Linked DNA regions of Homo sapiens: region 2 is linked to region 1. Evidence: fine-mapped expression QTL. A gene starts in region 1. The other region holds a variant in brackets. All regions are shown on one strand. Distances are from middle to middle. Region 1 holds the start of FGL2 (fibrinogen like 2). Region 2 overlaps GSAP (gamma-secretase activating protein).

Region 1 (4,393 bases):
CAATATCCTTAAGGACTAGGAACTAAATATCATTCCTATATATTTCTACTTTACAAAATGGTTTTTTTTTTTATCTATGTTGTCATCATGTCTCCTTTTTAAAATTATCTATTGTTTCATTTATTTCTTACCTCCCAACAGGGAAGTGTCACAGCTTGAAAATAGGTGAGAAGAAATGAGGTTAGGAGTTAGGGGATTAAATAGATATTTTTAGCTAAAAAGTTTTTGTCTAAAATTGGATATATTGAATGGAATGAAGAGAAAAACAATTTTTGAAAGAGCTATATGAAGATGGAAGAAAAAAAGTCATAAGGTGTGTAGAACATGTTTGACAAATTTATTTGGGAAGAATGTTACATTTATACACTGCATTTTTTTTTTTCTTAAGTGCTCTAAGTTTTTTTTTTCTTTTTTTGTGAGGGGTGGGGCTGGGGGATGGAGTTTCACTCTTATTGCCCAGGCTGGAGTGCAGTGGTACGATCTAGGCTCACTGCAACCTCCACCTCCTGGGTTCAAGTGATTCTCCTGCCTCAGCCTCCCGAGTAGCTGGGATTACAGGCACACGCCACCATACCTGGCTAATTTTTTTTTTTTTTTTTGTATTTTTAGTAGAGATGGGGTTTCACCATGTTGGCCAGGTTGGTCTCAAACTCCTGATCTCAGGTGATCCACATGCCTCGGCCTCCCAATGTGTTGGGATTACAGGCGTGAGCCACCACGCCCAGCCAAGTGCTCCAAGTTTGCATGACTATCATTCCTGTATGAGGGAAGAAATAGCTAAATTCCTCCGCTACAGCTACAGGAACAAAGGCTCATTAAAGCTGATGATCTGTTTACATGATCAGAGGTAGATCTAGGGTTGGAAGCCAGGTCTCCTGAGTATGCGAGAATAAATACAGTCATGGAAGAGTAAAGAGTCTGCCAACATTTTGAGAATGTGAATAGGATTTGGCTAAAATTAAGGGGATATACAGAAAAGTCATAGGAAATCAGGTTAAAGACATAAATATGAGATAGGCTACAGAGTGTTTTAAGTAATACAATAAAACATTTAGATTTTTGCCCATGTCAGTCATTTTGAAATTATTTTTAAAGCAAAAAAACCCTTTTTAAACAAGAAATCTTATGAGATGTCAATATGCAAAACAAATTAAAAGGAGGTGGTTTCTCTAACTGAAGCTGTTCCTCTTTCCTGCCTTCAGCCTCTGAAGAGAAAGTTAGAAAACTATTATCATTAATGCTACATGTTTTGAACAAGCTGATATACCAAGTGGCCCAGAGAGCAGGTAGAAGAACCAGCGTGGAGACAGAAAGCAAGAGGCCCGCCTGCCAGGGCTACCTGCAGAAAGAAAGGGCAAAGATGCTGTAGGCAAGAGAAGTTCAGGACAGACACTGGCATAGCTCAAAGATTCACATTTGAGCAGCTGTGGAAGATGACAGTACAATTACCAAAATGTCGAAGGGCAAAGGAGGCAGCTACTGGTTTTGATGAAAGACAATTATGTCCTTTTAAATGGGTCTTAGACATTTAGACATTAATATACACTATGCTACGGACAAAGGAATAGAAAGTAGCACTTTTTTCTCCACTAGTTTTCTTCTCTTTTTCAAGTAGATGAAGCAAAAGTCAACTGCAATAGTCAGAAAGCTGTACTTTGTTACACTTAGAAACTTCTAAAAGTGCTTAAGATTTCACCTGAAAGTCCAACATGAAGAAAATACAGGCTCCCCAATGCCCCATTCTAAGAAGGAAAAAGGACCATTTTCATTTTAGTAACGTTTCTGTTCTATAGACAGTTTGGATAACTAGCTCTTACTTTTTATCTTTAAAAACTGTTTTTCCAGTGAAGTTACGTATAATTATTTACTTCAAGCGTAAGTATACCAAATTACTTTAGAAATGCAAGACTTTTCTTATACTTCATAAAATACATTATGAAAGTGAATCTTGTTGGCTGTGTACATTTGACTATAATAATTTCAATGCATATTATTTCTATTGAGAGTAAGTTACAGTTTTTGGCAAACTGCGTTTGATGAGGGCTATCTCCTCTTCCTGTGCGTTTCTAAAACTTGTGATGCAAACGCTCCCACCCTTTCCTGGGAACACAGAAAGCCTGACTCAGGCAGCTGCCGCTATTAAAGCAGCTCCAGCCCTGCGCACTCCCTGCTGGGGTGAGCAGCACTGTAAAGATGAAGCTGGCTAACTGGTACTGGCTGAGCTCAGCTGTTCTTGCCACTTACGGTTTTTTGGTTGTGGCAAACAATGAAACAGAGGAAATTAAAGATGAAAGAGCAAAGGATGTCTGCCCAGTGAGACTAGAAAGCAGAGGGAAATGCGAAGAGGCAGGGGAGTGCCCCTACCAGGTAAGCCTGCCCCCCTTGACTATTCAGCTCCCGAAGCAATTCAGCAGGATCGAGGAGGTGTTCAAAGAAGTCCAAAACCTCAAGGAAATCGTAAATAGTCTAAAGAAATCTTGCCAAGACTGCAAGCTGCAGGCTGATGACAACGGAGACCCAGGCAGAAACGGACTGTTGTTACCCAGTACAGGAGCCCCGGGAGAGGTTGGTGATAACAGAGTTAGAGAATTAGAGAGTGAGGTTAACAAGCTGTCCTCTGAGCTAAAGAATGCCAAAGAGGAGATCAATGTACTTCATGGTCGCCTGGAGAAGCTGAATCTTGTAAATATGAACAACATAGAAAATTATGTTGACAGCAAAGTGGCAAATCTAACATTTGTTGTCAATAGTTTGGATGGCAAATGTTCAAAGTGTCCCAGCCAAGAACAAATACAGTCACGTCCAGGTATGTATAATAATGTTTTCTTATCATATGTTCATAAATGTTATACAGCTAGAGAGTATCTATAAACATTAACCTGAGTCAGTAAGTTAAATAGATGACAGATTAAGTCTTTTATTTATCAAGGTGCACAGGAAAAAATAAATATCTTCTCAAATATGACCACATAAATATGACCTAATTACAAAAATCATAGTTAGTTCTGTATCCACTGGAAGTCACTTTCAATTTTAAGATCTTATTTGTTAATGCCAGACCTACTTGCAAGCAGAAGTAGAGAGAATTTCTTGATGTTTTAGTGCATTTAACTTGTCTCTTCAATGAGGTGTTTGAAAACAATAAAGATAAGGCGATGTTCACAATTGTGCCTTGTTTGTTGGAAATCAGTTTTTCTTGTGATTGACTGACTGCCGCTTCTCATGGCTAAAGAGGTCTTTGAAAGATTTTAGCAAGTAATCTAGTTCTTAATCCCAAATATCTGGAGAAAATGGGAGAGTTTACAGATGGAATAAAAGCAGTTTCATATGTGTGCACAAATTTTTGCTTTGAGACCTAGTGGCACAAAAAATATTTTAAGGGGAGAGTTTTAGCATGCCACTAAGGGAAGGTATTCATATTTCTTTCTCTTTTACCTGAAGTTAGAATTCAAGCAGATAGAAGTAGAACCCATCCTCACCATCCAAATTACTTGAATTAACTTTAATAAATACATGTGAAATTCCACAGACTTAATCGCCTACTCCACCCACGAACTAACAGTGGTATTGACTCTCCAAACCTTGGCTTTTCACCTGAGTCACTGGGACCACTGTTGCTGACTGTCTCATACTTTGGAAAGCCATCTCCGCATTTGGACCTCTACTTACCATGAACGTGAGGTTGAAAGGACAGGGCGGAGATCACTTTCATTTAGAGACAGTATCTCAGGCATGCTCCATCCCCAGGGCATCTGCCAGTGAAGGAGGGAAGGGTCATATTTTCAAGGACCTCTATTGGTAATACTCCTGGCAGCCTGCATCTGAATGTACCTGGCACACTGCGAATCCAAGGTTCACCGCTTAGGTGACATCAGTGGGTATACATTAGATTAGATGCTGCATGGCAACTTGTCATGATATGAAGACTATTGTCTATTTTTCTCCTAAACATTTTGGGTGAAATAACTGAATATTCTGAGCTCTAAATATACAGGAATAGATTTTTATGCCTTAGGGTATCTCATATTAAACTTACCTTATTTGTCACACATTTTAATAAAAACTATCTGGGAGTAAATATCTGTCTGATTCATACAGAACTTTGTTAACTGATTATTATGCTTATCCTCAATATAGTCACCTGTTGTTTCTTTCTAGAAACCCAACATGTGAAATAGTGGCTAAATACTTTCCTAGATAATAAATACAGAATAAGAATATTGGTGTGTCATTGAAAAAGATACTTCTTTTTCACTTGAGCTTCTTTATATAGTTGTCAAGTGAAATGAATATGAATTTATGATCAATCCTATGCATTAGGATTTTAACACATCATTTGGAATATATGCTATAAAACCTTCTGACAGTAGAGGCTATCAGCCCCTTTAGGTGA
Region 2 (4,393 bases), 150 kb before region 1:
TATGGAAGCATTCCTTCCCTCCAGGGTATGAGGCAGGACCCTCTTAGGGGAGGGTCTTAAGATCTGCAATCAGAAAGGCAGGGGGGTGGGGCGGGGGGTGGTGGTGGGGAGTGGTGGAGGGGAGAGTCATGCCTTAGGGCAGGTGAAAGGAAGGCAGGAGAGAGAGTTTCCCGAGACTAGTCCTGGTCCCGAAGCCTAAAATACCCGATATTATAACATCAGGCTGTAACAAAGGCTATGGGCATTGTGAACCAGGAGTGGGTGGATGAAAATTAATACATACAAAACACCACAATAAGTATGTCATACTTTTTTTTTTTTCTTTTTTTGAGGTAGGGTCTCACTCTGTTGCCCAGGCTGGAGTGCAATGACATAGTCACAGCTCACTGCAACCTTGAACTCCTGGGCTCAAGCAGTCCTCTTGCTTCAGCCTCCTGAGTAGCTAGGACTACACGTACATGTCATCATGTCTGGTTAATTAAAACTTTTTTTTTTTTTTTTGGTAGAGACAGGGTCTTACTATGTTGCCCAAGCTAGTTTCAAACTCCTAAGCTAAAGCCATCCTCCTAACTCGGCCTCCCAAAGTGTTGGTATTACAGGTATGAGCCACCATGCCCTGCTGGGTTGCAGTGCCTTAACTCAATTGTTCTTCTGTTTTTTGGACATTTAGTTTGTCCCTAGCCCCCATTAAAAAAATTTCTTTTTGCTGTTAGAAATAATGTTGCAGAGAATTTTTTTTCTTTCTTTCTTTTTTTTTTTTTTTTTTTTGAGATGGAGTCTCATTCTCGTTGCCCAGGCTGGAGTGCTTTGGTGTGATCTCGGCTCACTGCAGCCTCTGCCTCCTGGGTTCAAGCGATTCTCCTGCCTCAGCCTCCTGAGTAGCTGGGATTACAGGTGTGCACCACTATGCCCGGATAATTTTTGTATTTTTAGTAGAGGCGGGGTTTCACCATGTTGGTCAGGCTGGTCTCGAACTCCTGACCTCAGGTGATCTGCCCACCTCGGCCTCCCAAAGTGAACATTTTTATACATACAGTTTTTCTTTTGATCTATTCCCCTAAGGTTAAGAGCCCAGAGGTAACATTGGGTGAAAGGCTATGACGATTTTTATAGCATTTGATTCTTATTTTGTGATAAATTGATATTCAATGAAAGGGATGTCACGTGCGTCCAGGTGAAGAGACCACCAAACAGGCTTTGTGTGAGCAATAGAGCTTTTTAATCACCTGGGTGCAGGCGGGCTGAGTCCGAAAAGAGTCAGCGAAGGGAGATGGGGTGGGGCCGTTTTATAGGATTTGGGTGGGTAGTCAAAAATTACAGTTAAAGGGGGTTTTCTCTTATGAGCAGGGGCGTGTGTCACAAGTTGCTCAGTGGGGGAGCTTCTGAGCCAGGAGAAGGAATTTCACAAGGTTAATCGCTCAGTTAAGATGGGGCAGAAACAAGTCGCAATGGTGGAATGTCATCAGTTAAGGCAGAAACCGGCCATTTTCACTTCTTTTGTGATTCTTCACTTCCTTCAGGCCATCTGGATGTATACGTGCAGGTCACAGGGGATATGATGGCTTAGCTTGGGCTCAGAGGCCTGATAGTCCTGTCTTCTTATATTAATAAGAAAAATAACATAAAATAGCATTGAAGTGTTGGGGCAGCAAAAATTTTTTGGGGGTGATATGGAGCAATAATGGGCAATGTTTCTCAGGGCTGCTTCGAGCAGGATTAGGGGCAGCATAGGAACCTAGAGTGGTATAGATTAAGCTGAAGGAAGATTTTGTGGTAAGGGGTGATATTGTGGGGTTGTTAGAAGGAGCATTTGTCGTATAGAATGATTGGTGATGGCCTGGATGTGGTTTTGGATGAATTGAGAAACTAAATACAAGGTTTGAATAAGAGAATGAGAAAAACAGATATTAAAGGACTAATAATTGGGAGGACCTCCAATTAGAGAGTGCCCAAGGGGGTTCAGCATAATTACTTGCTTGGTTGGCAAGTTTAGGCTCTATCCTTTAGATTTTTATGTTGTCATATACCAGGCCAGACTGATTTAGGTAAAAACAACACTTTTCATTTAAAAATATACAGAGTCCTTTCTTTTTTTGTTGTTGTTGTTGCAGTGAGTAAGTTGAGGCCTCAGCGATTTTGGAGGAAAGAGAAATGCAAAGCCAGCAATTGTTTGTTAAAGAAGGATTAGAAATGGCTAGGTGAGAGTGAGATTGGCAGTGTGGTGGAGATAGCTGGGGAGAGGTAGAGGGTGGCATAAGAATGGGAACAAGAATAA[T/G]AATGAGTATAAAAGTAAAGAATAGGACTTCGTCAGGGTGAAAGTATTGGAGTGTACCCCGTCAGCAAAGATCATCTATCCACTCTAAAAGGGAGTTAAGACTGGCAGTTGGGGATAGCACCAGGAGATACTAGCTGTGATGGCTTGGAGCAACAGTGTAAACCAGCAGTGTAACAAGAGCAGGACATTTATGAGTAGTTGAGAACAGTGAATAGGAGTATGACTAGACAGAAGATAGTACGGATGACAAGTTTTTGGGGTGCAGTCCAAGTTGGGCTGGTGTCTGGAATGAGCCTGGAGCCTAACAAAAAGGAGCGTCCATACAGAAGCTCAAATGGGCTGTACCCTGTAGCATCCCGAGGACAGGCCTGAATTCTGAGAAGGGCAAGTGGTAAAAGTATTGTCCAGTCCTTTTTAAGTTGGAGGCTGAACTTGGCGAGGTGTGTTTTTATAAGACCATTAGTCCATTTTACCTTTCCTGAAGATTGAGGATGGTAAGGGGCCTGAAGGTTCCACTGAATACCAAGAGCCTGAGAAACTGCTTGGGTGATTTGACTAGTAAAGGCCTGTGTGTTATTGGACTGTATAGAGGTGGGAAGGCCAAACCGAGGAATTATATCTGACAGAAGGGAAGAAATGACCACGGTGGCCTTCGCAGACCCTGTGGGAAAGTCCTCTACCCATCCAGTGAAAGTGTCTACCCAGACCAAGAGGTGTTTTAGTTTCCTGACTCCGGGCATGTGAGTAAAATTAATTTGCCAGTCCTGGGCAGGGGCAAATCCTCAAGCTTGATGTGTAGGGAAGGGAGGGGGCCTAAACAATCCCTGAAGAGTAGTAGAATAGCAGATGGAACACTGAGAAGTGATTTCCTTGAGGATAGATTTCCACGGTGGAAAGGAAACGAGAGGTTCTAAGAGATGGGCTAGCGGCTTATAACCTATATGGAAGAGGTTATGAAATGATGACAGAATAGAATGGGCCTGTGAGGCTGGAAGGAGATAATTTTCCTTGGTCTAAGAACCATTTGTCTTGTGTGGGAAGAGATTGATAGGTAGAAGTTAGTCAGTGGGGGAGTAGGTGGAAGTGACCGATGAGAAGGAGAAAAACTGGCAGTGAGGGACAGAAATTGGAATGCTAGCTGCTTCTTTAGCTACCTTATCAGCATAAGCGTTGCCTTGAGCGATGGGATCTGACACCTTTTGATGGCCTTTGCAGTGAATGACTCCAGCTTCCTTTGGAAGTAAAGTGGCCTTGAGAAGAGTTTTTATTAAAGAGGCATTAATGATGGAGGACCCTTGCATAGTGAGGAAACCTCTTTTTGCCTATTATATAACAGCATGGAGGTGCAGGATATGGAAGGCATATTTAGAGTCAGTATAAATATTGATGCGTAGTCCTTTTGCAAGATTGAGGGCTTGAGTTAAGGCAATGAGTTCGGCTTGCTGAGAGGTAGTGGAGGGGGGCAGAAAGTATATGCGTCAGGTGTGAGGAAGAAAATAGATTTTGGAAGTTATGAGAACTGTAGAGAGTGAGTTGAGCATAGTTTGTGATTTTGAGGGCCTCTAAAAGTATTAAAGCGCGGCAGCTGCCACACACAGACATGAAGGCTAGGCTAAAACAGTAAGATCAAGTTGTTTGGACAGAAAGGCTGCAGAACACGGTCCCGTCTCTTGTGTGAGAACTCCAACCATACAGCCCTGCACTTTGGCTGTGTGTAATGAAAAGGGAGTGATAAGTTAGGGAGAGCTAGTGTGGGAGCTGTTTTTTAAGGAATGGAAAGGAGAGTGGGGAAAGGATTTAGGATCTATGGGGTCAACTAGGTTTATCTAGAATAGAATAATGGGTTGTGGAGGGAGGTATTGAGGATAGGAGAGTATATAGGTTTGGCACTGTGGGGTGGATAGGCAAAACAATTTGGTTGATAAGTCGCAGATCCTGAGCTAACCTGTAAGGCTTGTCTGGTTTTTGGACAGGTAAAATAGGGGAATTGTAAGGAGAGTTTACAGGCTTTAAAAGGCCATGCTGTAATAGGCAAGTGATAACAGGCTTTAATCCTTTTAAAGTGTGCTGTGGGATGGAATATTGGCATTGAGCAGTGTAAGGGTGATTAGGTTTTAA

The links. PIP is the estimated chance that this variant, and not a neighbour inherited with it, causes the effect. A credible set is the group of variants that fine-mapping cannot tell apart.
Region 2: its variant is the best candidate, but not a certain one, in a credible set for the expression of FGL2 in whole blood (TOPMed, PIP 0.81).

What each region holds. Positions count from the first base shown.
Region 1 is chr7:77,197,594-77,201,986 of GRCh38, reverse strand. It overlaps FGL2 (fibrinogen like 2), which reads left to right and starts at 2,168. Exons shown (of 2, transcript NM_006682.3): 1 at 2,168-2,806. The coding sequence starts at 2,194. The region is part of intron 2 of CCDC146 (coiled-coil domain containing 146); the gene reads right to left. RefSeq lists a silencer at 2,468-2,577.
Region 2 is chr7:77,342,646-77,347,038 of GRCh38, reverse strand. All of the region lies in intron 19 of GSAP (gamma-secretase activating protein), which reads left to right. Among named protein-coding and RNA genes, the nearest start is that of GSAP, 72 kb to the left of the region's middle. The variant T/G (reference allele first, on the strand shown) is at 2,276.